Homo sapiens: one gene and its partners. The protein of the gene in region 3 interacts with the protein of the main gene of each other region in a biochemical or structural test. Each region holds a gene or a part of one and is shown on either strand. Other genes may lie near its edges. The genes, in order: CYSLTR2, SLC15A5, PDZK1 and SLC34A1.

What was found.
Region 1: the proteins of PDZK1 (region 3) and CYSLTR2 interact in a test that uses a peptide from one of them, tested with the Homo sapiens proteins (2 studies listed by IntAct, with this or other methods).
Region 2: the proteins of PDZK1 (region 3) and SLC15A5 interact in a test that uses a peptide from one of them, tested with the Homo sapiens proteins (2 studies listed by IntAct, with this or other methods).
Region 4: the proteins of PDZK1 (region 3) and SLC34A1 form a complex in vitro, tested with the Homo sapiens proteins (2 studies listed by BioGRID and IntAct, with this or other methods).

Annotation. Positions count from the first base shown.
Region 1 is NC_000013.11:48,656,924-48,663,950, forward strand, and holds part of CYSLTR2 (cysteinyl leukotriene receptor 2), read left to right. Parts: intron 1-7,027. UniProt on the Homo sapiens protein: Receptor for cysteinyl leukotrienes. The response is mediated via a G-protein that activates a phosphatidylinositol-calcium second messenger system.
Region 2 is NC_000012.12:16,218,671-16,225,697, forward strand, and holds part of SLC15A5 (solute carrier family 15 member 5), read right to left. Parts: intron 5,933-7,027; coding exon 5,744-5,932; intron 1-5,743. UniProt on the Homo sapiens protein: Proton oligopeptide cotransporter.
Region 3 is NC_000001.11:145,697,366-145,704,392, forward strand, and holds part of PDZK1 (Na(+)/H(+) exchange regulatory cofactor NHE-RF3), read right to left. Parts: intron 1-7,027. UniProt on the Homo sapiens protein: A scaffold protein that connects plasma membrane proteins and regulatory components, regulating their surface expression in epithelial cells apical domains.
Region 4 is NC_000005.10:177,380,381-177,387,433, reverse strand, and holds the start of SLC34A1 (sodium-dependent phosphate transport protein 2A), read right to left. Parts: upstream 3,001-7,053; 5' UTR 2,947-3,000; intron 1,740-2,946; 5' UTR 1,693-1,739; coding exon 1,584-1,692; intron 1,448-1,583; coding exon 1,298-1,447; intron 1,214-1,297; coding exon 1,085-1,213; intron 1,012-1,084; coding exon 868-1,011; intron 1-867.

The DNA of each region.
Region 1 (7,027 bases), on a different chromosome or scaffold from region 3:
CCATGTCAGAAACCCCTAGCACTGTATTTCTTTATTTCTCAGGGTATTGGCCACTGCCTCCTTTGTACTGCAGTTACTTATGTACAGTATGTTCTATTGGACCAAGACTCTGACATTGGAGTCATTGCATAGAACCTAGCACATAAACTCCATTGAGAATAAAGGCATTGTGTAAATAAATCAATTCACCCAATGAATGCAGACTTTATTAGTTACAGCTAATGTTTATCTCTGTTGAACTTTATTAACCTCTTTATATTAATTGACCCATGGAGAAAATATAATCTTGACAGAATTTAAAGGAAAACCTCTTCCAATGGATTGATGACTTTGTGGCAGTACAGTCAGTCTTTTGACAAAGAAATCTAGTTATTATTCGAGAGGCCCAGGATAAGGGTCTAAGCAGTGAGTTGGAGTCAAGAAATTCCAAAGTCGGAAGGGTCCTTAGGAAGAGCTGGGACCAGAGGCAGAGTTTTTTTTGCCTCTTTAGTGTAAAGTCCTTAACGGAGAGGTTTCAAAAAAGTACAGGAAGCAGACTATAGAAAGAACAGAAGAAAGGAGAGAAAGGAGGGAAGTAGAGGAGAGGGGAGAGGAGGGAAAGAGATGGAAAAGGAGAGAGGAAAAGAGGGGAAGGGAGCTGGTTTACTCTGGAAGTTTAAATATTAATTAAGCTGGGAGAAATTAAAATAATTTAGTCCACCATTATTACCTACATTGTACATTATATAAATAAGAATTTATTATAAAAAAGATAATTTCCCACGTAAGTCTCCTGCCATGAGGCTGTAGAAACAGCATCGTACCTTGTTTGTACCTCTAGTACAGAAAAACAATCATCTAAAGAGTATTTGAAGGCATCCTAGATTCTTTTTTCTCTTTTGTCAAATTATTATTTTTAAAGTATTTTAAATTTGTATAAATTTATGGATTACACATGCAATTTTATTAGACGTATAGATTGCATAAATTGTGTAGTGGTCAAGTCAAGGCTTTTAGGGTAACCATCACCTGAATAACATTGTATCCCAGATTCTTTTAAGTAAGCTGGTTTCTCTTTATTTTGAGTCTTACCTTAAAAATAAGGTAAATTCGCTGAGAGATATGTAAATCTCTTGTAAATTCACTGTTCCTTTGTAAATTCACTGAGAGATATGAAGGTGACTCCCTTTTAGTTGTAAGAGGCACAAATCCCTATTGGGAACTTGTTGGCACAGAGTCAGAGAAACAGTCTGCTACCCTCCAAGATATAAAGGGTGCTGCTTCCTACAGTGTTTAGAACAGAGCACCATCTGGGTACCCTCTGTGGCTGCCTTCTGCTCCCATGCCATGCCATTGACCATTTACCCTATATTCCTCTTCCCAGACTTTAGATTTGAATTTCAGGAAAAGAAAATTTTCAAGGAAAAACACATTAACATCATTTCATTATAAAAACCATGTGAGTTCTTTCCCGCCCCCCAAAAAGATATTAATTGTAAGGCATAAAATGAGGGTGTTGGATAACAGCTTCATTAGCTCATTTATTGATCTGAGCACATTCATGTGCTTCACGCTGTGCTAGGGCCTGGGGTACAGCAGTAGACACGTGCTTGCCTTCCATGGGCAAACAGTCTGGTGGGTAGGGATAGACAGGAGACAACTGCTGCCCCTGGAGTAAATGCTGGATGGGAAACCCAAGGGTCTGCAAACAGCCAAGACATGGAGGGATCAGAGAAGACTTTTTCTGAAGAAAGTGATGTTTAGAAAGAAACCTGAGACTGGGTAAGCAATAGCCAGGAAATGAGCTGGAGCTCAGAAGAAATGGGCAAGAGAGAGCCTGCAGTGTTGGGGGTTTTGAAATAAGCTTCATGAGACTGAGTGTCCTTTACTGAGGGGATGGTGGGGAGAGAATATGCTGGACAACAAGATCAATACTATGAAAAGCCTGGAGATGAACTTGACTCTGAGATGATAATGGGTTTTAAGTGGAAGAGTAATGTGGTCAGATATGCATTTTGGAAAGGTCACTCTGGCCACTGTGTGAAAAATGAATTGAGAACAGCCAGAGTGGAGATAGGGAGCCATTGAGGAGGCTGTGCCCATTGTGCAGGTGAAAGATGACAGCCTGTACTAGGCCGGTCTTGAGCTGACCACTGAGATGAAAGGAGGAAGTTGATGGAGGCTGCTGGGTAAACAGGCCAGGTCTGCCACAGAGGAGACACTGGGCAGCAGGACAAGCAGGAGAGGAGGAGAGCCCATGGTTTACTTTTGCTCCTGGCCCTCTCTCCTTTAGATTTCAGATACCCACTGCCCCCATGCCACTGGCAGCAGGTGGGGTGGCAACAGGAATGACAATGCATGGTGCCAGGCAAAGTGTAGCTGCATCCCTGGCTGTCACCTGTGCTGCCTCCTGGGGTCCTCTCAATAACTCTGAGATGTTGAGTACTTTCTGATGGTCACACAGTTTGCACAAGGAAGAGCTAGGATTTGGGTTCAGTTGGGATTTATTCCAGAGGTTTTCCATGATATCGCAATGTCTCTATGTCATTTTAGGAAATACACATGATGTTTAACAAACTACCTTTGTAAATAATTTCTTTTCTCTAAGAATTGAATTTAATAATGGAATATGAAATGCTGTCTAGGGGAAATGAGAATGAGAGGGAGTTTTAATTTGAATAAATGGGCTTGTGAGGAGCTCCTGAGTCATGTCATTTAGTTACCTTGATTATGGACAGGGAGGACCCTAATGTTGATCAATCCGTAGGGATTTATTGGAATAAACAGGACAATGTTTCTATGATAACACTTGCTGTTCTTCTGTCTTGGAAATCAGAGACTCAGATAAAAAACAATTCTGTGATTCTGTGGTCTTCCTTAGATCAGACATTTGGTGAATAATAGATACCGCCAACCTTTCTAAATACAAGGATGAAGTGCATTAGAAAATGAAAAACATATTGTTGAGATTTTTACGAAAATTAAATTCATAATCAGCATCATAGACTCATGTGTTATATTAACCAAGGAGAGCTGAGGAAAGTTTTGAGAGCCAGAGAGAGGGCAACATTTAGTCAAAATAATGTTTTTAAACAAAATGAAGCCATATCTCTAAGCAGCTCAGGGCTCTTCATATATGATGTTTTTGTTGAGTTGAATTTTTGTTTGTTTATTTGGTGGCTGAATGTTAGTGGTAGGATGAATGTGCAAGAGAAGCTAGCTTTTGGAGTCTATTAAAGAAGGAAACAAGGAGAATTAGTAAAGACAGAGGTGGGAAGAAGGAGGTCTGAGGTAATGCTGTACATCTTGTTCTTGAGGGCAGAGGTGTCCCCTGGCATGTTTGGATGCCAAACTTCTGCTAGGTTTCAATCCCTGCTACATCCCTGGGGATAAGTTGTTCTCTGGGAGATAACAGTAGATCTGCCAGAAAACTCTTCACCAATGGCCCAAAGTGCTGACTTCATGGTTAAGTGGCATGTGGAAATAAATGGCATTCAGAAAGCAAAGGGTCACCAGCCTGGTGGCCAATGAAGTGACTCATACTTTGGGGGCTCCTTGAGGCACTTTGTGGGTGACCGGGTAGAGGAAAAATCAGTGCAGCAAAATTCTCCAAGGCACTGAGTCCATGAAAACAAGGCCCTGTGAGATTCATTCCCCTCCATCCCACTTCCTCTGGAAGCTCAGAGACCAGCTCCGTTTCACATTCAAAATATGTCACAATTTCAGTTCCTTTTATCTGTGTTTCTGTTTTGATCTCCAAGAACTTAATTCACCTTGACTTTTTGAAAAAAAAATTCTGAAAGCACAAGACCGTTCTTGGAAGGCCAGGAAGGTCTAGAAAGCTTGGCATTTCTGACATGACATTTGGAGCCTGTTACAAATAAACTCTGAGTTGTCAGCTTGGGTCTCAAGAGTAAACTCTCAGTGATACTTCCCTGTTCTGGAGGGCCGTGTTAATTCAGCACTCTGAGGCCTCTGGGATTTTGAGGAACAAATGTGTTGCAGAATCCTCTCTGCACAACTTCAGAGAGCTTATTCTGTCAGCCTTTGCAATAACAACAGCTAACACTTAATATGGCACTTTCTCTGGTCCAGGCCCTGACCTAAGTGCCATTCATGTATTATCTCACTTCATCCTTACAACCCTATGAAGTAAGAACTATTATTAGCATTACCCCTTTCTTTTATTTATTTATTTAAATTAATCTTTTTTTTTAATTTTTCTTTTTTATTGAGACAGTGTCTTGCTCTATTGCCCAGGCTGCTCTTGAATTCCTGGGCTCAAGCGATCTTCCTGCCTCAGCCTCCCAAAGTGCTAGGATTACAGACATGAGCCACTTTGCCTGGCCGCATTACCCCCTTTTACTGATAAGGAGCTGACGCCGAGGGAGATAAAGTCATTTTCCCATGGTCATAGAGGTAGTCCGTGAACAAATCAGGATTTAAATCCTGAGGTTGCTGCTCTGTTACTGCTTCCCTGCAGCTGAGAGCAACACCTGTCATGCTTCTCACCATTTTTTATCATTAAATCATTTCTCAGCCTTGTTTTTATATATTTACTAGTGCCCTGCAAAAATTTTGCCTCCTTAATGCTTGTTCTAGGTCCCAATTCTGAGGTTTAATAATAATAGTTAACATCACTGAGCGCTCACCCTGTATGAGACAACTCACATTTATTATGCCATTTATAGATGGCATAACTGAGGCTCAGAGAAGATAGGTCACTTCTGCAAAATCTCACAGCCAGTAAGTGGCAGATGTGGCCTGCTACCTTACACCAACTGTCTCCTGTGAACACTTCTATTTATTTTAATTTATTTGTCAAATTGACAAATAATAATTGCATATTCATGGGGTATATATTGATGTTTCTATACATGTAATGTATATTGATCAGATCAGGGTAATTAGCATATCCATCATCTCAAATATTTATCATTTCCTTTTGTTGGGATCGTTCAATATCCTCCTTTGAACTAGTTGAAACTATTTAATACATTATTGTTAATTAGAGCCATCTTACAGTGGTATAGAACATTAGAACTTATTCCTCTCATCTAGTGGTAATTTTGTATCCTTTACCAAATCTCTCCCTTTCCCCCACTCTTCCAGGCCTCTGGTTTCCTCTGTTCTACTTTTTACTTCTATGAGATCAACTTTTTTTACTATTCCACATATGAGTGAGAACATATGGTGTTTGACTTTCTGTTTCTGGTTTAGGAAATACAATGGACTTAACATAATGTCCTCCATTTCCACCCTTGTTGCCACAGATGACAAGATTTCATTCCATTTTATGGCTGAATAGTATTCCATTATGTATATATACCACATTTTCTTTATCCATTCATCTGTTGTTGAACACTTAGGTTGATTCCATAACTTGGCTATTGTGAATAGTGCTGCAGTAAACATGTCAGTGCAGACATCTCTTAGGCAAACTGGTTTCAAAGCTTTTGGGCAAGTACCCACAAGTGAGACTGATGGATCATATGGTAATTCTACTTTTAGTTTCTTGAGGAACCTCCATATAGTTCTCCATGGTGGCTATACTACTTTACAGTCCCACCAACAACACATGAGTTCCCTTTACTCCACATCCTTGCCAACATTTGTTTTTTCATCTTTTTGATAATAGCCATCCTAACTGGGGTGAGATGATACCTCATCGTGGTTTTGAGTTGCAAAATCATCACTGATGATTAGTGATGTTGAACATTTTTTCATATACCTGTTGACCATTTGAATGTCTTCTTTGTGAAATGTCTGTTTAAATCATTTACCCATTTTAAAATTGAATATTTTGCTGTTGAGATGTTTGAGTACCTTGTATATTCTGAATATTAGTCACCTGTCAGATTAGTAGCTTGCAAATATTTTCTCAAATTCTGTAGGTTATCTTTTCACTCTGTTGATTGCTTCCTTTGCTGTGCAGAAACTTTCTAGTTTGATAATCCCATTTGTTTATTTTTGCTTTTGTTGCCTGTGCTTTTGAGGTTTTATTCACAAAATCATTTCCCAGACCAGTGTTCTGAAATGTGTGTCCCATGTTTCCTTCTAGTAGTTTTTATCATTTTGGGTCTTATATTTAAGTCTTTGATCCATTTTGAGTTAAATTTTGTAGAGTGAGAGGTTTGGGCCTAGTTTCATTCTTCTATAGACATCCAGTTTGCCCAGAACCATTTATTCAGGAGACTGTCTTTTCCCCAATGAGTATTCTTGGCACCTTTGTCAAAAATCAGTTTGCTGTAGATATTTGGATTAATTTCTGGATTCTCTATTCTGTTCCATTGGCCTATGTGTCTGCTTTTGTTAGTAACATGCTATTTTGGTTACTATAACTCTGTAGTGTATTTTGAGGTTTGGTGGTGTGATACTTCCAGCTTTGTTCTTTTTGCTCAGGTTTGCTTTAGCTATTTGGGTTCTTTTGTGGCTCCATACAAAGTTTAGAACTTTTTTCTATTTATGTGAAGAATGTCATGGGTATTTTGATAGGAATTGCATTGAATCTGTAGGTTGCTTTGAATAGTGTTGTCATTTTGACAATATTAGTTCTCCTCCATGAGCATGGGTTGTCTTTCCATTTGTTTGTATCCTCTTCCATTTATTTCATCAGTGTCTTGTAGTTTTCCTTGTAGAGGTCTTTCACCTCCTTGGTTACATTTCTTCCTAAGGTTGTTTTTTGTTTGTTTGTAGCTGTTGTAATGGGATTGCCCTCTTGATATTTTTTTTCCAGCTAGTTCATTGTTTGTGTAGAAAACACTACTGATGTTTGTATATTAATTTTGTTTCCTGCAACTTTATTGAATGATTTATTAGTTCTAAGAGTTTTTGGTAGAGTCTTTCTATATATGAGATTATCATCTGTAAACAGGAACAATTTGACTTCTTTCTCTTGAATATGAATGCCATTTATTTATTTCTCTTGCCTAATGACTCTGACTAGGATTTCCAGTGCTATATTGAATAAGAGTGGTGAGAGTAAGCATCATTGTCTGTCCCTGTTCTTGGAAGAAAAACTTCCAACTTTTTCTAATTTAGTAAGATG
Region 2 (7,027 bases), on a different chromosome or scaffold from region 3:
ATGATACTATAATCTTATGAAACTGCCGTCATATACGTGATCCATCATTGATCAAAATGTTGTTACGTGTTGCATGACTGTACTGTAAACACTAAACATTTAGTTTCCTTCTCTATGAGAAGTAAGAGATCTTATTATCTCTTCCTGCTCCTCTCGGGAATATTTACCCCTGGTTTTTTGTTTGCTTGTTTGTTTGTTTTTAATACTTTGCTGCAGCAAAACTCTGCATTTACCAGAACTTTTCCATGATCTTACTAACACATGATGTAAATGTATTAATGCTCCTTCCTTAATTTAAAATTTCTGTTTTACTTTCGGTGTGTCCTGCACATGTCTTGATTTATTTATCCCATAAAGATTTAAAGGAATCCCATTTTGCACTTCAGGAAAGTGCTCAGTGCTGGAACTGAGAGGTGGGAAAAGGCATCAGTTTATCTTTCCTGGACTTTAAACTCTGGAGCAGAAACAGCACATTATTTAGTACAAAGGGCAGTGCTAAATGTGCACTTTTCCCACAAACGCTGATTGGAGATGAAGATAATAATGGTGATAGGTAAAATACTGTGGAGAAGGGCTTCAAATATTGGTGGCACGGTAGCACAGCTCTTTGTGTAGTACCAATCACCAGCAGGAACCTTGGAGTATTTTCAGAAAGGTCCAAATGGGAATATGAGAGGAAGCCTGAATAGGCTTTGGGAATAAATGATTCACAGTTATAAAAAGGATTTGGCTTATAAACTTTCCTTTCCATAAGTACAAGGAGACAAGCAATGAGCAGAAAGAGTAAGTAGGCCTATTTCTTTCACTAAGAAAAAGCAGAACATACAAGCCCATTATTACTCTGCTAGTTAATTATTAATCCTATGCTTTTCTCCTGCTAGAACTTCTGGTACGGTATATAATTCATGAACACACTTTGCCAGCTCTCTGCCTGCTGGTTAATCTCTCTTTGGTGTCATTTTAGTCGTTTTTGAAAACCTCCAGTTCCCTTTTATAGGACTTAGCTTTTCAAGTCCTCGAATCTTCATTTTTAGGCATCTACTTGCATGTTCTGATCTTTTGAAACTTTAGTGATCATCAATTTGATTTTTTTTAGGCTCCGAGATATTTCTTTTAGCCCATTACAATGTAGATAATATCAATAAGTCTGTCACTATTGTAAAGTTCCCGTTTTTCTATGAAGACACAATAAAAAATATTCAGTGTGTACGTGAAAGCTGGTCTTCTTGCCAATGAGCGCTAAAAATGTGCCTCCAGGTAGTAGCTGGTTAGTGCTTGTAAAGATGCCACATCACAGCATATGAGGAATCTTCAAAATATAGGGCCATAACCACCTTCCTAAGGCACCTGGTACTGGGGACTTATTGCTGGAAATATTTTTTACTCTCGTTGTTCTTAAACAGTTAAAATGTGTGTATTGTGTTTGGTGAAAAGTTATTTTGAACATGTGGAGAAGAAGTACCACAGTCCCAGAAAATGGAACTTTATCCTGTTGCCATTTTTAGACCATTATATCTCCCTTAACCCTAAAAAAGCTTCAGCTTTGAAGCTCATGTTATCAGACTATATCATCTACTTCCCTTTCATGCTGTCATCTGCCAATCTATAGGACATTTTCCTCTTTTTCTCAGAGTTGTCAGTTCCTCTCTCATTGTCACACTCTCTGGTACTACTTCTGCCTTAATACTTGGCAATTTTACTATACATGTAGATCATCCTTCCCACCTTCCATCCTTTCAATCTTGGTTGTCCAGTTCCTTGACCTCCAATGTCTGATCTCCAATCTACCTCAGCTTCCACTCCACTCACACCCAAGGTCATGGCCTATGCCTTGTACCTCAGACCAGTGGTTGGCCAGCTATGGTCAGGTAATATTCAGTTTGCCACCTATTTTAATAAAGTTTTATTGGAACACAGCCACGCTCATTTATTATATGTTGTCTATGGCTGCATTCATACCACAATGACATAGTTGAGTAATTGTAACAGAGACTGGCCTGCAAAACCATGTGTTGGATCAATAACTGTACCCACTCCATAATCACAATTTTGTGCACCCTTCTCTGATTAGAGCCTTCTATCTTCCCAACTTACTCTCCACTACTCAACCACAGAGATGCTATAAGCTATAATGGCAGAAATTTTTGTCTTATTTTTTTTAACTGATGTGTCTAAAACTTCGAGAGCAGTATTAGGCACACTGTAGACACCCACACAGTATTTTTTGAATAAACAAACATAGGGTATGAGACAGCTGAGGTGTACGCTGCTACAATTAAAACATAATTTGAAAAGTTTCCTACTGCTTTTTTTTTTCTAGCTCATCTCCAATGTATAACATGTCTTAGTAGGGTAGGCTATGTCTACTGTCATTTATGGAGTGATTCACTGTGTTTCCTTGCTCAATGCCATCAATGTAGGACACTGTCAAAAGTTTGAATAATACATTTTTATTGTACCATATAGAAATAGCCGTAGACTTCATTCATTTGTTTCTTCAATCAAAATGTATTTATTGATCACCTATTTTGTATATGTACTTTTCGGAAAGGAGAAACATACCTTGATGTCAGGAATGTATATTCTTACAGTGAGAGGCAGGCAATACAAATATAAATAAAGTAATTTCAGATTCTGACAAGTGCTATTTAAAAAACCAGGGTAATTAAGTGGAAAGTGATGGAATGCTCAAGGAAGCCCCTCCAAAGAGAAGACCTTTGAGAAAGCTCAATAATGAGAAGCCAGTCATTTGAAAACAGAGGAAAGGGAATTCTGAATAAAGGATAAAGCAAGTACAAAGGACTTGGGGTAGACAGAAATCTAGCATCTTAGAAACACACACATTTCTGGGGATGTGGTCAAGGGGCAGATTGTAACCAAATGTAGGTGGAACAACACGTGGAGACCAAATCATGTGGAACATTATTCACCATTGTGAATAATTTATCTCTAAAACTCTACTGTGGAATTTCAATCAGGGGAATGATAGAACTTATGTTTTGAGAAGAACACCACAACTGTTTTGAAGAGAATGGACTCATGGGGCAGGAGAGGAAGCAGGGAGAAAAGTTCAGAGGCTCTGGTCGAATTGGGGCTGGAGATGATGGTGTTGTACACCAGGAGAACAAAGGGGATAGTGAGATGTGGCCAGATTTAAGTTATATTTCAGAGTAAAAATGAGGACTTGCTGTTGGATTGGAGGGGAGAGGTGAGAGGAAAGAGATGGATCTAGGATGAATCAAGTGAGAGACAGTTCTGCTTATGCTTCCAGGTCTCCCAGCTGTTCAGGTGGTTTATGGCAGAAAGAGCTGGGAACAGGACACCTGTGCTTCTGTTCTGAGTCTGACACTATTAATTCATGTGAAACATGATAATAATATTAGGTTGGTGAAAAAGTAATTGTGGTTTTTGCCATTACTTTTAGTAATGATAACAACACATTATAACTGCTAATTATTGAATGCTGTCTATATACGGGGCACTGCGGTTTTTGCTTTACATAAAATCTTCCACTTAGTCCTTTGAACAACTCCCTGTTTTATAGATGATGAGAAAAGCCCAGAAATGAGGAATAATTTTCCCAACGTCACAGAGTTAGTCAGTGACAGAACTGGGTTTGAATTCAGATCTGTCTGACTTTAAGACCATAGAGCCTAACCTCTGTGCTGTACTGTCTCCCAGAAAGGTAATACTTGATTTTATAGTTTGAAATACCCTTTCATATGTTATGTCATTTGATTTTCAAGGAGTAGTCTCTCATTCCCATTGATGCTTACCCTATCAATGCTGTGATATAAAGAAGAATACAATTATTTCTATTTTAAATATCAGAAAAGTGAGGATTGGAGGTTAAATGAGTTCCCAAATTTATGTAGGTAGTAATGGAAAAGCTAGATATCAGACCAAATTCTTTCAGTCCCTGGTCCATTATCCCAATAGCAGATGAGTCAAGTGACTTAGACCTCAGTTAGGCCTGATTTCCTGGAGTAAATCAGGGAGTGGTGGAGTAAGTGATGTGTAGCACATGATCTGCCTTTTTCACAGTCATTGGTTTTCTGTACCTCTCTGGCTTCTGAATGTTGAACCACTATTGCTAAGCTGGCTAGCAATTTCCTCCACATATTCACTCATTACTTTTACTCATTATTTACTCTATACCAGCCCAGAAAATTTTGGCTGACTACTTCCAACACATTTTTGGGAATAACATCAGAGAAGATCACAAATATTTGTGTAGTAGCATTGCTTTACACTTCTTTTGTCTTCCTTGCAGTGTTAAACAGTGAGGTCCCCAGTTTAAAATCTCATAAAGTAATTTATGTATGCAAAATATATGGGATGAAATGATATACAATTATAAAAAAAGAAGTCTGAGACACACATATATATGCATATACTCCAACTTAATTTTATTTTCATTATTTAATGAATTGCCTTGGTATCATAAGTATGTGTGTGTATAAATACATATTTATTAAATATTTATTTTAAGGAGTTTGGAAACAACTTTTAAGATAATAGAATCATTGAAGATTGTAGACACAGATGGAATGGTTAGAATTGTTATTTAGGATGATTACTCTAAAATCCATGTGCCAGTTGATAGAATGGGAGAGATAATGGAGGTCGGAAGATAGTTAGAAGTTATAAAAATATTATCCATAAAATATAATGGGAGCTTGAGTTACAATCAGGACTCCTACTACACGAAAATTTAAGGAGGATAGAAACATAAGATGTAATCAATTACAGAGATAAATAGATGTACACACACATTACTGTATTGCAAGAAGCCACTGAAATATTGTGATAAATTGTAAAGTGGCTAGTTTAATTAATATAAGCAATCTAGATAATTCAGAAACCCTTGATATTTAATAAACTTATTTTGAACCTGTCTTATGAAACATTAGTGATCTCATTTAATCTAGTGTAATTTAATTCAAAGACATCAAGTTATCTGGAAAATTGGCTTAAATTTTCATTTCATTTGCATGTTTATATACTCTCAAAGAACATTAAGTGTCATTTTTGGAGGAGTATAAATGAGCTTTTTTTTTTTTTGAGATGGAGTCTCACTCTGTCACCAGGCTGGAGTGCAGCGGCACAATCTCGGCTCACTGCAACCTCCGCCTCCCGGGTTCAAGTGATTCTCCTGCCTCAGCCTCCTTGAGTAGCTGGGACTACAGGCGCCTGCCACCACACCTGGCTAATTTTTTGTATTTTTAGTAGAGACAGGGTTTCACCATGTTGGCCAGGATGGTCTTGATCTCTTGACCTCGTGATCCACCTGCCTTGGCCTCCCAAAGTGCTGGGATTACAGGCGTGAGCCACCGCACCCGGCCTGTGAGTTTATCTATGAGTGAGAGTCGGGGAGGTGAGAGGAGGGAAGGGAGAAGAGAAGAGGCTTTACATCTTAGTGTTCTGGAGTTGTCTTCTGGGTTTTAGCAGAGGTTTTCCTCCTGTGGTGTGTCTGACAAAATGGTTATTGCCTTTAACCAGATTAAAAATCTTTTGTTCCATCTGCATCCAGGCAGAATTGATAATTGTTCTGTGCATGGCAGAGGAATGAGGAGAAATGAAATGTTTGTAAAAAAGTAATAAATAAATTTGCTGGAAGTATTGTGGGAACTCTCTAGGAGGTGAATAGATGACATACCACTTTAATTGTTCTGGTTGAGGTGATGTGTTCTGTGTAAAGGTTCAGTATGTTCTAACATTAGTTGAAAAGGTGTTTACTCACGGGCTGGGTTTACCAGTGTTTCCGCCACTCCAAGTAAAACATACTGAAGAATCAGGTAGAAACAGGGCATGGAGGAAACAGTGAGAACTTTTCCTGAAAGGGGCTGCTCCACTGCAGGGAAATGTTTTCGGTGTATTTCAAAGAAGCCAGCTATCATCACAGACAATGCAGCAAAAAGATTTCCAGCAACTGAAGGAAAATAATGCAAAAGAAAAAAAAGTTAAACGAAGAGCTAGAGATTCATGTAATAAGCCATAACATTTCTTACCCATTGACATTAGATGTTTCTTTTTTGTTTGTTTGTTTTTATTTTTTTTTAATTTTTTTATTATACTTTAAGTTCTAGGGTACATGTGTACAATGTGCAGGTTTGTTACATATGTATACATGTGCCATGTTGGTGTTCTGCACCCATTAACTCGTCATTTACAATAGGTATATCTCCTAATGCTATTCCTCCCCCCTCCCCCCACCCCACAACAGGCCCTGGTGTGTGATGTTCCCCTTCCTGTGTCCAAGTATTCTCATTGTTCAATTCCCACCTATGAGTGAGAACATGCGGTGTTTGGTTTTTTGTCCTTATGATAGTTTGCTGAGAATGATGGTTTCCAGCTTCATCCACGTTCCTACAAAGGACATGAACCCATGATTTTTTATGGCTGCATAGTATTCCATGGTGTATATGTGCCACATTTTCTTAATCCAGTCTATCATTGTTGGACATTTGGTTTGGTTCCAAGTCTTTGCTATTGTGAGTAGTGCCGCAATAAACATACATGTGCATGTGTATTTATAGCAGCATGATTTATATTCCTTTGGGTATATACCCAGTAATGGGATGGTTGGGTCAAATGGTATTTCTAGTTCTAGATCCCTGAGGAATGGCCACACTGTCTTCCACAATGGTTGAACTAGTTTACAGTCCCACCAACAGTGGAAAAGTGTTCCTATAGGCAATACCATTCAGGACATAGGCATGGGCAAGGACTTCATGTCTAAAACACCAAAAGCAATGGCAACAAAAGCCAAAATTGGCAAATGGGATCTAATTAAACTCAAGAGCTTCTGCACAGCAAAAGAAACTATCATCAGAGTGAACAGGCAACCTACAGAATGGGAGAAAATTTTTGCAATCTACTCATCTGACAAAGGGCTAATATCCAGAATCTACAAAGAATTCAAACAAATTTACAAGAAAAAAACAACCCCATCAAAAAGTGAGTGAAGGATATGAACAGACACTTCTCAAAAGAAGACATTTATGCAGCCAACAGACACATGAAA
Region 3 (7,027 bases):
AAGAGAGAAAAGAAAGAGGAAGCAAAAAGGAATAATCAGAAAACAAAATGCCAAAATTTTAGTGTCATCAAAACTAAAAGAAGAATTTTAAGATGGGATAGTTAACAATGCCAAATAATGCTAAGAGGTAGAGAGAATGAAAACAGAAAATGCCACTGACATTCAGAAAATGGAAGTCTGGGCCTGATAAAACACTAAGAAGCAAGTGGATACCAAGTAACAGAAGCAACGAATATTGATATTTTATTTTTTGAGACAGTCTCGCTCTGTCACCCAGGCTGGAGTGCAGTGGTGCGATCTCAGCTCACTGCAACCTCTGCCTCCCAGATTCAAGCAAGTCTCCTGCTCAGCCTCCTGAGTAGTTGGGATTTCAGGCACCCGCCACCATGCCCAGCTAATTTTTTTTTTTTTTTTTTTTTTTTTTTTTTTTTTTTAGTAGAGACAGGATTTCACCATGTTGGTCAGGCTGGTCTCAAACTCCTGACCTTGTGGTCCGCCCGCCTCAGCCTCCCAAAGTGCTGGGATTACAGGCATGAGCCACTGCACCCAGCCTGGATGTTTTTATTTTTAACATTAAGGAAACGATCAGCATGTTTCTGTATCAAGAGATGATATGGAGAACATGGAAACTGGGGTTAGCCTTGGTGAGAGGAAATACCTCTTCTCCAGGGGCAGAAGAGAAGTAGAAAAAAATATGATAAAGAAGAAAACAAGGTCACTTACCTCAGCCTCAATCTCTCCTACGAAGTAGCTGACAAAAATCAGGAACTTGGAGAATATGGAGCAAAAGTACCACAGAAAAATAATCTCTAGGGTCAAACAGGTAAATCAGCGAAGGTGGCCGAGAGGGGACGGAGGAAAAGCTGCTGCTTTTCATGAGAAGACAACTGCCTGAGGAAGAGGAGGCCAGCATGCCACCTTTCAATTTTCAAGAGACTCTGGAAATCTAGATTTACATAAAATGTCCCCATTTAAAAAAACTGACAGCTATTTCAAACTTAAAAGAAATTCTATGTAAACCAAAAGAGAATGGAGCCCCCGAGCTGGCGGTGAACTAAGACAGTGAACTAATGGCCACAGCATTAGCTCACTACAAAGAGTCAATGAATTGAATTAAAATGTCTAAGAAACAACTTAGGTTAAAATATATATATATAATAAACTTGCAGCAGCATGGGTTCCCATGGATTTTTCTTACAGTAATATACATCAAGAATAGAAAAGGAAAGTGGTAACTTTTACCCTAAGTTGGGGCTAACATATTTTTAAAACATAAGGGTAGGCCAGGCGCAGTGGCTCACACCTATAATCCCAGCACTTTGGGAGGCCGAGACGGGTGAATTACTTGAGGTCAGGAGTTCGAGACCAGCTTGGCCAACATGGTGAAACCTCATCTCTCCTAAAAACACAAAAAACATTAGCCAGGTGTGGTGGCAGGCACCTATAACCCCATATACTCCGGAGGCTGAGACAGGAGAATTGCTTGAACCCGGGAGGCGGGAGGCGGAGGCTGCAGTAAGCCAAGATTGCACCACTGCACTCCAGCCTGGGCGACAGAACGAGAGTCTGCCTCAAAAAATAAAAAATAAAGGCCAGGTACAGTGGTTCATGCCTGTAATCCCAGCACTTTTGGAGGCCGAGGCAGGCGGATCACCTGAGGTCAGGAGTTTGAGACCAGCGTGGCCAACTTGGCGAAACCCTGTCTCTACTAAAAATACAAAAATTAGCCAGGCTTGGTGGTGGGCATCTGTAATCCCAGCTACTCAGGAGTCTGAGGCAGGAGAATCACTTGAACCCAGGAGGCAAAGGTTGCAGTGAGCTGAGATCACGCCATTACACTCCAGCCTGGGCAACGAGTGAAACTCCATCTCAAATTTAAAAAAAAATAAAATAAATTTAAAAATTAGCTGGGCGTGGTTGTGCGTGCCTGTAATCCCAGCTACTCAGGAGGCTGAGGCACAGGAATCGCTTGAACCCGGGAGGTGGAGGTTGCAGTGAGCCAAGATTGTACCACTCACTCCAGCCTCAGTGACACAGCAAGACTCCATCTCAAACTAACAAGCCCATAAGAGTAGGATGTGAGGATTTCTAGATTTACAAGGGGCACAGAGCTGGAATGTCAGACTGTGGGGCCAACATGAATTGGCAGATAAGAGGAGCTAGGAGTTTGGGATTGGGAAGATGAAATGTTTCAGGGACTAGCTTAGCAGCATGAGTTGGGAAGAAAGAAGAAGGGACTGTGGAAGCAGTTTCAAAAGTTAGTGGGTTGACACAGGAAAAGTTATCTGAAAAGATCTTTAGAGCAGAATAGTTCCCCATGATGCAATTCTAAAGGAGCCAGATGTGTATACAAAAGGGAATCTGTATTTTTGTTTCCATCTTCCCCCAGGATCGATTCTGAGTAAGGTAGAGTAGAAAGAGCAAGGGTTTTAGAGCCAAACCTAGTTTTTAATCCTGGCTTCACCGCTTGTTAACTGTAAGAACATGGGTGAGTTCCTTAATTTTGAGCTGAAGATAGAATACCCCTAGAATAGGAAGCACATGTGGATGCCGTGAAGATGGCTCACAGTAGAGCATGCAAGGCCTCTCAGCACAGTTTCTGGAGCATAGAAGTCCACTCCATCCAAGTTACTCTTTCCTGTCCTCTGATGAAACGCCTGATGCAATGGGAATCCCATTTTCTGTGAGAATATTTGAAATTTTTCCTGATTTTCTTTTTGCAGAAGACAGGAAGAAATTACAGACTAAGAATGGGCAGGCACCTCAATGATCAGGCAAGGGATTCTCTATCTACTCAGTCCAGATCACTTCTGCGAAGCTAATTTTAGCTGCTGAAAAGTCAGGGCTGGAGATTTTGTTCCCCATGAAAGAAAGCTCAAATAATAAACTCTGGACTCAAAAGTATCCTGTAAGTCTAAAAGCCAGGGAATTACAAAATAGAACCAAATGCTGTGTATCAAGGAGGTAAAAGAGTCCAGGGAGCTTTAACAGAATTTCAAGACTAAGCTGGCCAGAGAGTTCCACCGCCTGGAGTGGATAAGCTCTAACAGAAGTGAACATAGGGACCCAAGGAACAGACAGCAGTGGAGAAGATGGAGTGAGTGAAGCATTACCTTAGCTATAGATACCTGGCCCAGAGAGGGACCTTCATAGCCAAGGAGTAGCTAGTGAATAGGCTCACTCACCAGACAGCATCACTGAAATGCCAAAAGATCAGAGAGAGGGCATGGGATAAACAGCATTCTGCTTGGAGGGAGAAAGACAGAAGGGGGCTGTCACCAGCGATGGCCAGATGCAATGAAATACCATCAGGAAAGAAACAGCCCAGGTACTGTCATCTCTGCTCATCTTCCAAGGTCTGGGACTTAGAAGTGGCAGGATTATTCCATAAATATAGTCATCTACACCTGAACCCACCATCACCTTATCTAATAGTAACTAGGAATCAATTATGCCGTCAGTATCACACCACGAAGACAACAGAGCCTCTCCCCACAAGGCACTTACATAACCAACACTCAATCCATGAAAACACTAAACACTAAAAACTTAGCAGGGGCTGGGCGCGGGGGCTCATGCCTGTAATCCCAGCAGTTTGGGAGGCTGAGACAGGAGGATCACCTGAGGTCAGCAGTTTGAGACCAGCCTGACCAATATGGTGAAACCCCGTCTCTACTAAAAATACAAAAATCAGCTGGGTGTGGTGGCACACGCCTGTAGTCCCAGCTACTCGGGAGGCTGAGACAGGAGAATTGCTTGAACCCAGGAGGTGGAGGTTGCAGTGAGCCAAGATAGTACCACTGCACTCCAACCTGGGCAACAGAGCGAGACTCCATCTCAAAAAAAAAACAAACACTTAGCAGGACTGCTGGTGAGGAATGTTTAACCCTAGTTACTCTGACTGTGGAAGGGTATCTGATTGTATAATCTAGTATGAAACCATAGAGTAAGTTACTTCTGTTTTGTTGAGGCATAAGGAAAAGAAAGGGCAGGGTCTCTCCGGCAACATTAAACCTAGACATTACTTGCTTTCCACTGAACTCCATGCTTGCCTATAAAACACTCTGAACTTTAGCAAGAAAAAAGCCACATTCTCAGGACGCTTGACCACAGTGTGCACTTTGAGGAATGCTGTTCTTGCAGCACTTGTGTGCATCTGTGTAACAAGAAAGAAGAAAACAAACCCACTAGACTTTTGTTAGGAAAATACAGTTGGTGGAGACTGTGCAACATTAAGCCAGCAACTATAGACAGGCTGAGAATTCCCTACAGGCATCAGCCCTGACTCCAAGGCTTCATGCCTCACACCAGCCATGGCTGGCCTCCTTCAGAGCCTGCCACAGAGCCTTGGCACATGCTGTTCCTTCCAACAGCATAAGCAAAAAAATCCTGCTGTATCTGAGCTGCTACTGACAGATGTCTCTAGCAAGGAAGAGATAAAGACAACTCAATTTCACCCTTCTTCAAATATATTTTACCTAGAACAGATCCTATATTTTTATGCAGATCATATTTAAGGCTGCCTGGATTTCTCCTCTGAAAAGCAAAGCATATGGAAATTCAAATACTCAAGTATATTTACTTTAAATAATTAATATCAAAAATAGAAGGAGAAGCAAGATTCTAAAATATGTATTTGCCTAGTGTACTTTCCCATTGTGATAGTTACTGTTTGGTCTTAGCCAGGGATAAATTTCAAATATGAGAAATCAATGAAATCCATTCCATTGAGAATTATCTGGAGAAGAGTGATCCCAGACCCACTGAGTAGTTTTTATTTCTCATTTATGATCAAGAATGGAATCTACTTATCCCAAAGTTCATTTGGCCTGCTGATACTAAGTACCTTCCCTACCTCCAGCCACCATAAACAATACTTTGTCCTATATGGCAAGACTCTGGGCTGGAGTTCAAGGCCTTTCACAGTTTGATTGCTTATCTAAGAGTTCTATGAGTTGGGAGAGGGATAGAGCCAATATTGTGTGGAAACAGAGGCACCCACAGAGAGAGGACACCCTCATGCTGCTGATAGACAGCTCAACCGCCTTGAGTGCCAGCTGAGACAAGTGCTTTCCCCAAATCGACATTTTGTGACTTTTTGAACTTGCATTTCTACCCCCCCACTTTTTTTTTGGTATGTTTAAACTACTACAAGAGTCTTGCCTCGAGACAAACTTTCTAACCCTGGTTTTATTATACTACCATCTCAAAAATAATAATAATAATAATTCAAGAAAAAGAAGCTCGGCCGGGTGCAGTGGCTCACGCCTGTAATCCCAGCACTTTGGGAGGCCAAGGCAGGCGGATCACGAGGTCAGGAGATCGAGACCATCCTGGCTAACACAGTGAAACCCCATCTCTACTAAAAATACAAAAAATTAGCTGGGTGTGGTGGCGGACGCCTGTAGTCCAAGCTACTCGGGAGGCTGAGGTAGGGGAATGGTGTGAACCCAAGAGGCGGAGCTTGCAGTGAGCCAAGATCGTGCCACTGCACCCCAGCCTGGGCAACAGAGCAAGACTCCGTCTCAAAAAAAAAGAAGTTCAAGCTTCTTGCTCAGGCACTGAGGCTCAGCATAATCCAGCCCTACCTCAGGCCCCCAGCTCCTCAGCAAGCCCCAATTGGTCTATGCATGGTCACCCACACGAGCCTGCCCTTTGCTCATGCCCCATGAGCACTTACTCATAGTACGTGCTAAGTAAACATTTGTTCCAAGTGAACGAATTTAAGACCTACCATTTTCAAGGCTCAGTTCAAATTTTAGATTATATACGAATCCTTCCATGACCACCACAGTCTGAAGGTATCATTTCATCTTCTGAATTTCAGTTATCGCTCATGTACTTAACAAGTTCTATGTAATACCTACTGCGAGGCAGGTATCAGGGCTCAACCCAGAATAGCTACCGTCCTGCCCTGAAAGAGCCTGGAGTCCAGTGGGGAGAGTTATGAAGTTTAACTGCTGAACAACGTTGTGGGTGCTGGAATATTTAAATACAAAAGCTTTCTTATTGTTATATATATTTATTGAGCTCCCTACTAGGATTAGGAACCAGCCTAGGTACTTTTTATGGGTTCTGATTCAATCCTGATGGGCCATTTTACAAGGAAAAAGAAAAGAGACTCTGAAAAGTTAACTTGGTTTCCCCTGACTATTTGGATAAGCAGAGTCTGGATTCAAACCCAGTTGAGTCTGGATTCCTTCCACCATCTACCCTGCCTCCCAGGCCTGAGGTGTAGAATGTATTCTGGAAATACAAGTAGTCAGACTAGGAAGAGGAAGTCATCCCAGGCAGAAGGAACAGCAGGAGATGCATTCCCAGAATGGTGAATGGTTCAGAAAGATCAGAGCACAGTTATATGTTGAAAAAAAGAAGTAGGTTAGACTGTGAGCACTGGACTCAGTCCAGTAGACTATAGAGGAGCTTCAGGATCCATGTCGTGTGTCCCCAACAAGATAAGCTTTTTTTTTTTGGCCAGGAGGGATGGAATCTTGCTCTTGTGGTCCAGGCTAGAGTGCAGTGGTGCGATCTCGGCTCACTGCAACCTCTGCCACTTGGATTCAAGCAATTCTTCTGCCTCAGCCTCCTGAGAAGCTGGGATTGAAGGCACCCGCCACCACACCCGGCTACTTTTTGTATTTTTAGTAGAGATGGGGTTTCACTATGTTGGCCAGGCTGGTCTCAAACTCCTGACCTCAAGTGATCCACCCTCCTCAGCCTCCCAAAGTGCTGGGATTACAGGCGTGAGCCATCATGCCCAGCCAAGATAAGCTTTCTTAAGAGCAGGCACCACAGCCCCTTTCTGTATTCTCACACCATCAGGTATGTATTCAATACAACTGGTGGAAAGTCCACGGGCTTTTCTGGATCATTTAGTTTCATGTCCCCATTGGGACCCCATGGTTCTACGCAGCTTTATGAATGCTGACTATCTGTGCCTCCAACCAGGCTTGGCACCTCAGAAACCAGTGACCACCTCAGACCAAAAGCAAACCTTCTCTAGTTGCCACTAAGTGGGCTAGGGCTA
Region 4 (7,053 bases), on a different chromosome or scaffold from region 3:
CCCAGAGTGTGATGGTTAGTTTTTTTGTTTGTTTGTTTTGAGACAGAGTCTCGCTCTGTCGCCCAGGCTGGAGTGCAGTGGCATGATCTCGGCTCACTGCAAGCTCTGCCTCCTGGGTTCATGCCATTCTCCTGCCTCAGCCTCCTGAGTAGCTGGGACTGCAGACACCTGCCACCACGCCTGGCTAATGCTTTTTGGTTTTTGTTGTTTTTTTTTTTTGTATTTTTAGTAGAGACAGGGTTTCACCGTGTTAGCCAGGGTGGTCTCGATCTACTGACCTCGTGATCTGCCCCCCTCAGCCTCCCAAAGTGCTGGGATTACAGGCATGAGCCACTGCGCCCGGCCAGTGATGGTTAGTTTTATGTGTCAACTTAGCTAGGCTGTGGTACCCAGTTATTCAACCCAACACTAGCCTGGGTGTTCTGTAAGGTGTTTTGTAGATGCAATTCACGTCTACAGTCAGCTGACTTTAAGAAAAGGAGATTATCCTTGGTAACCTGGGTCAGCCTAATCCAATAGAATGAAAGGCCTCAAGCAGAACTGAGGCTTCCCTGAGAAAGGAGAAACGCTGCCCTGTCTGGACTGCAGTGTCGGCGCCCACCTGAGAGTTCCCGCCTGCCCTTCCAATGCCCTGGCCTACGGATTCCTGACTTGCCCAGACAAACTACCATCGGGGAAGCCAGTTCCTTGCCATAAATCATCTGGGTCACATACAGCTACAGTTGGGCTCCTCTCATGTCCCTGGCTGATACAGGAGTCAAGCTGAATGGAGGCCAGCCTTACTGGGGTCACGCTCCCCATTTGCCACCCTTCCCAGCTCCTGGGGTGCCCCTCCAAGCTCTTCCCCACCCTGGTGGGCCAACTCACAGCCAGAGGAGACCATGCTGACGATGATGGATGTGGAGGTGCTGGAGCTCTGCACCAGCACGGTCACCAGGATCCCCACCACCAGCCCGGCCACCGGGTTGGACAGGATGGCGTTATCCTTGAAGATGTCACCAGCCACCTTCCCTGGGGAGCATGAGCCAGCGTTGTCCAAGGCCCTTCAGGAACCCCTCCCAGGTCTCCTCCACCCGGGCCCTACCTCCAGCCAGCTGGAAGGCCGAGCTGAGCATGTCCAGGGAGCAGACGAAGAGGTAGAGGAAGGTGAGCATCAGTGGCACCTTGAGCAGCATGGCGCCAGCCTGGCGCAGCTTGGGGACCAGCCTGGACTCTGGATGGGGGAAGCCATGAGCATAGTGGGCAGAGGCCAGGGCAGGGACTGCTGCCGCCTCTGCCACCCCCAGCCCAGGCCCACCTGGCTTCTGCTCCTCCTCCAGGGCCAGCTTGGCAGGCAGTGGTTCATGGCGCTCCAGGACCTCCCCACAGGGGCAGGTGTGCTCAGCAAGGGCCACAGGGCCCAGGCTGGGGAAGGCATAGGCAGAGGTCCCCGGGATCCTGTGTAGGACTAGGGAGGGAGCCTGGTCAGGAGCCCCAGGGCCCCAAAGTGGGGAGGCGGGGAGGAACAGGCGGGGGAAGTGGCCTCATCCGGGATGTGGGCAACCGTGGGCAACCAGGGTCCAGGGTGTGGGAGCAGCACTTACCCTGAGGGCTGGGCACGTAGGCAAAGGCCGTCCCTCGCATCACATGCCCCCCACGGACTGGGAGTGGGGAGACAGCAGGGGACCCCAGCCTCTCTCCGTAGGACAACATCCTGGGCACCCACTATGAGGTCTGCAGGTCAGTGGGTCTCAGCAACGCTGAATGACAATAGCTGTGTCCGGGACACTCATGCCCACACACCCTCACCTGCACAAACCCCCATGGCGCATGATTCCAAATACACACCTAGCAAAGCACACCCTCCATCCTCACCACACACACACACCCCTCCGAGACTCACACGCACAAACACACACCCAGCAAACCACACCCTCCATCATCACCACCACAGCCCTCCGAGACTCACATGCAGACTCACATGTGCACATCTGTGCTGGGCACCTGCATGTGAGTCTCGGAGGGGTGTGTGTGGTGGTGGTGAGGTGATCATTCATTCACCATTCACTCATTCAATGAGTATTATTGAGCTCTAGCCCAGGCTCCGAACCAGAGGCTTGGATATAGCATTGATAAAAGACACTGAGAACTGAGGACGCCCAGCCTGTTTGGGGCTGGAGGGGGCCAGGGAATACGTGGTGTTGGCAGTGGCTGCAGGTGTGGGCTGGGGCTGGGCCGGGCTTCAGTTTTGCCCACCTGGAGAGCAAGGAGGAGCTGCAGACACCTGCCTTCTCATGGGGTCAGCTGGGCACACACGGAGATCCCCTGGGCCGGATCCCGAGTTCCTGGGTTCCCCTCACAATGAATTCCTTTCCCCATCCACCCCCTCAAGGGGCAATGAACAAACACTGACAGGCTTGCCTCAGCCCCCCCTTGTCCCCGCACTGCCCCAGGAGTCTTGGCTATTGGGGTGGAGTGCCCTGATCTGCCTCAGCACTCCCCGCATTGTCCCAGCGTCCTTGGCTGTTGTAGGGGTGTGAAGAGTTGAATTCAAGTCCTGAAGGAGCAGGAGTCCTTTTTTTTTTTTTTTTTGAGATGGAGTTTCACTCTTACCGCCCAGGCTGGAGTGCAGTGGCACAATCTTGGCTCACTGCAACCTCTGCCTCGTGGGTTCAAGCGATTCTCCTGCCTCAGCCTCCCAAGTAGCTGGGATTACAGGTGCCTGCCACCACACCTGGCTAATTTTTTGTATTTTTAGTGCAAACTCGACCTCAGGTGATCCGCCCACTCGGCTTCCCAAAGTGCTGGGATTACAGGTGGGAGCCACCGCGATTGGCTGGACTGACATGTTATATGGGGCGCGGTGGGGGTGGGCGCAGATAGGACACAGATGAAGGGGCTGGGGTGCTGGGCTGTTTCCTACTCAGAGCTGGGGGTGGGGTTGGGATGTGAGGGTCCTGGGCTCACCTTAGAATTCTGTGTTTCAGCTTCTGCTCAGCAGCTCAATGAAGCCTCCAGGACCCTGAGGAGAACTGAGACCCTCCTCTTTATACTCTTGGGTCAAGGGCAAAGTCCCTGGAACCCTAGCTGCCCTCCCTCTGTCCCCCAATTAACCTCACCCCTGAGATTCCTCCCAGTTAATTGCTAATCGTCAGCTCTGCATGGGGAATCTATGGTCAGGTTCTTCCCATCAACCACGACCCAGACACATCCCCCGCCTGCAGGCAGAGACCCTGATGCCACTCAGCACCTTGTTCCCAGGGTCCCCTCGTTCCTGGCCTGACAGGACTCCCCAGGGAATGACCCAAACATCCTATGGCCTTCGGAGGTTGCAGTGAGCCAAGATCGTGCCACTGCACTCCAGCCTGGGTGACAGAGTGAGACTGTCTCAGAAAAACCAAACCAAACCAAACAAAAACATCCTATGGCCTTGCCAAGCGTCGGGGTGTCTGTAAGTCTCCCAGGGGGAGCTCAGAGGAGAGGGAGTGTGAGATGAGGACCTAAGCTGGAAAGGCCGTGGAATGTTGAATCGTGGCAGGTCTCTAATGCCCGACCATGGGTCCAGGATGTGAGTCTGAGTGAATGTGGAGCCGCTGGCCAGACTGGGATGGGCCTGATCTGCCTTTTAGAATGGCCCCCGGGGTGGAACCCGGATATATGGAAGGGAGCCTGGAAGCGGAGGGGCCAGTTAAGAGGCTAATGGTCCAGGCAGGAGATGATGAGGCCTGAACTCCGATGGGAACGGAGGGGCTGGGGAGGACAGGTGCATCCCAGGGACATCTGACCAGTAGAATTGGTGACGGGGAGGGAGAGAGGAAAAGGAAATAGATGGGAGTCGGGTCTCTGGATCTTTGGCTAGGGCTGGGTTCATGCCCAGGTAGGAGGGTGTCGCTGAGTCACGGAAATGCAATCAGTTCTCAGTTCTTGTGTCAGAATCTCTGGGTCCTTGGGCTTGAAGGTGCTGTTAATGTCACATCGAGTGTCTCCACCTATGAGCAAACTGACACCCCCACAGCGGGCCCAGAGACCCCGGCCCACGTGACCTGTTTCTCTCCATTCCCCCGTGCAGTTCAGACCCTTGGCAGGAGCAGCTGAATCCAAGGTGCTCCTGGTGAACTGGGGGTGTTTCTCCTTTTTAATAAGGTTGTGCTTTTTGATATTTTTGAAGTTTGCCTTCCCTGCTGTCACGGAGCTCTGGGTTTAGTGGGGGAGGCAGTTAGCTATCGATCAAATCCATCAAGAGATATAATTCCAAAATGCTGCTGATTTACACAGCCACCACTTCTAAAGATTTATTTTGGGGCTACAGCCCTAGTGAAAGTGAGAAAATGCTGGATCTGACCAGAGCTGCTGTTGGGACTCATACAAGCAGCAGAGAAGGCAGCTCCATTCCAGCACCAACGTATCTCTTGCCAGCCTCTCTGCCATTTCAGCACCTCCCTGCCTACTGCCTGCCTCCTCCCTGGCCAGTGACAGAGTCTGTGTGTCCCCCTGGGTGGTGAGTCCCACCTTGTCTGTGCACCTGGGCTCTGGCCATGGCCTCCCCAGACCTTTTCTGGGCTGAGAGCCTGCCTGGTTGGGGGTGTCTCGCGTTGAGAAAGGAACCCAGCAGGAGGAGCTGTTTTGGAGGGAAGGTGCCAAGCTCCGTCTGCTCAGGCTTTCTGAGCGGCCTCTGGCACGAGCAGTTGGCTCTGCAAGCCAGAAGCACGCACTGTGCTTCTCACCCCAAACCTGGGCCTCCTCCTTCTTCCTGATCTTGGTGAGCGGCACACCGTCCATCCATCTGGGTCGGGCACCAAGCAGACATCCTTGCTGTTTCCTTCCCCTCCACTTCCTCGTTTCCAACTCAGTCCTCAATTCTCCCAATTTTATTGCTCCAGGAGCTCCCTGATCTTTTGCTGTTAGCCATCTCTGTGGCCACCTCCCTGGACTGGGCCTGTCATCTCCCCTGGGTCATTGCGGTCACTTCCCAAGTGCTCTGTCCATTTCTGCCCTTGCTGCCCCTGATCCATGCTCCAAAGCAGCAGACAGCAATCTTTTCAAAATGCCAAACTAGGCCGGGCGCGGTGGCTCACGCCTGTAATCCCAGCACTTTGGGAGGCCAAGGCAGGTGGATCACCTGAGGTCAGGAGTTCGAGACCAGCCTGGCCAACATGGTGAAACCCCATGTCTACTAAAAATACAAAAAAATTAGCGGGGCGTGGTGGCGGGCACCCGTAATCCCAGTTACTCGGGAGGCTGAGGCAGGAGAATCACTTGAACTCAGGAGGCAGAGGTTGCAGTGAGCCGAGATCGCACATTGCACTCCAGCCTGGGCAACAAGAGCAAAACTCTGTCTCAAAAAGAAAAAAAAAAAAAGGCCAAGTTAATCATGTCACCTCCTCTTCCTTTCGAAACCTGCCCCTGCTAACCACTTAGCATAAAGCCCAGGATCCTATAGTAGCCTGGAAGGACCAGGGTGACTTGGCTTCCTACCTGCTTTGCCAGCCTTAACCCGTGCCTGAGAAACTGTACCCCAGGGAGGACATGTACAGGAGGAGAGAAGGGGCCAGGGCCAAGCCCAGAGGAGCACCCACTTTTTTTTTTTTTGAGACAGAGTCTCGCTCTGTCGCCCAGGCTGGAGTGCAGTGGCGCGATCTCAGCTTACTGAAACCTCTGTCTCCCAGGTTCAAGCGATTCTCCTGGTTCAGCCTTCTGAGTAGCTGGGACTACAGGCACCCGCCACCACGCCCAGCTAATTTTTGTATTTTTAGTAGAGACAGGGTTTCACGATGTTGGCCAGGATGGTCTCGATCTCCTGACCTTGTGATCCACCCGCCTCAGCCTCCTAACGTGCTGGGATTACAGGCGTGAGCCACGGCACCTGGCCAGCACCCACATTTAAGGGAGACTGAGAGGAGCAGCCACGGACCAGGAGGAAGCCACCTCAGAAGCCAGGCTGGACCACATTTTGAGAGAGACACCCTGGTTGGCTGGGTCAAGTGCTGCTAAGATGTCAAGTAATCTGAGAACAGAGAGGCTTTAACAACCAAGGGCTGTCAGCCACCTGGGAGGGCATGTTGGGGGAGGAGTCAGCTTGTGATGGTGTGGGAAGGAGCGGGAGGCGGGGGAGCAGAGACAGCATCGCCAGCGTGAATATGAGACGCTGACATATATTAAATTTCATCACACCAGTGAAAACCATTTCTCCGGGAGAGGCATCACTGCTGAACGGAGAGAGAGAGAACGATCCCAAGAACAAATGTGCACATCCAGGAACTGAGCAAGCTGTGGAGGCTGGCACAACCAGCCGTTTCTGCAATTCTTCAGAGCCATGTGCTCCTTAAATGCACAGTTTGCTGCATGTGGGTTTTCCGCAGGACCTAAAGTTGAAGATGGTCAAGGGAAGAAGAACCCTTGAGCATCTTATGCCGGCATTCACACCAGCACAACTGCCATGCACACAGTCATGAGTGTGCACTGCACACGTCGGGGCGCATCCCCTCCAAATCTCAGGCCTGTAATCCCAGCACTTGGAGGCTGAGGTGGGAGGGTCACTTGAGCCCAGGAGTCCAAGACCAGCCTGGGCAACATAGCAAGACACTGCCTCTAAAAAAATTAATAAATAATTAGCCAGGTGTGGTGGCACGCATCTGTAGCTGGGGAGGCTGAGGTGGGAGGATTGCTGAAATCTGGGAAGGCAAGGCTACAGTGAGCTGTGATTGCACCATTGCCCTCCAGCCTGGGTGACGGAGCGAGACCCTGTGTCAAAAACATAAATAAATAAATAAATAAATAAATAAATAAATAAAAGAGGCTGGGTGCGGTGGCTCACGCCTGTAATCCCAGCACTTTGGGAGGCTAAGGCAGGCAGATCACCTGAGGTCAGGAGTTCGAGACCAGCCTGGCCAACATGGTGAAACCCCGTCTCTACTAAAAATACAAACATTAGCCAGGCGTGGTGCCGCGCACCTGTAATCCCAGCTACTTGGGAGACTGAGGCAAGAGAATTGCTTGAACTCAGGAGGTGAAGGTTGCAGTGAGCCAAGATGATGCCACTGCACTCCAGCCTGGGTGACAAGAGTGAAACTCCAT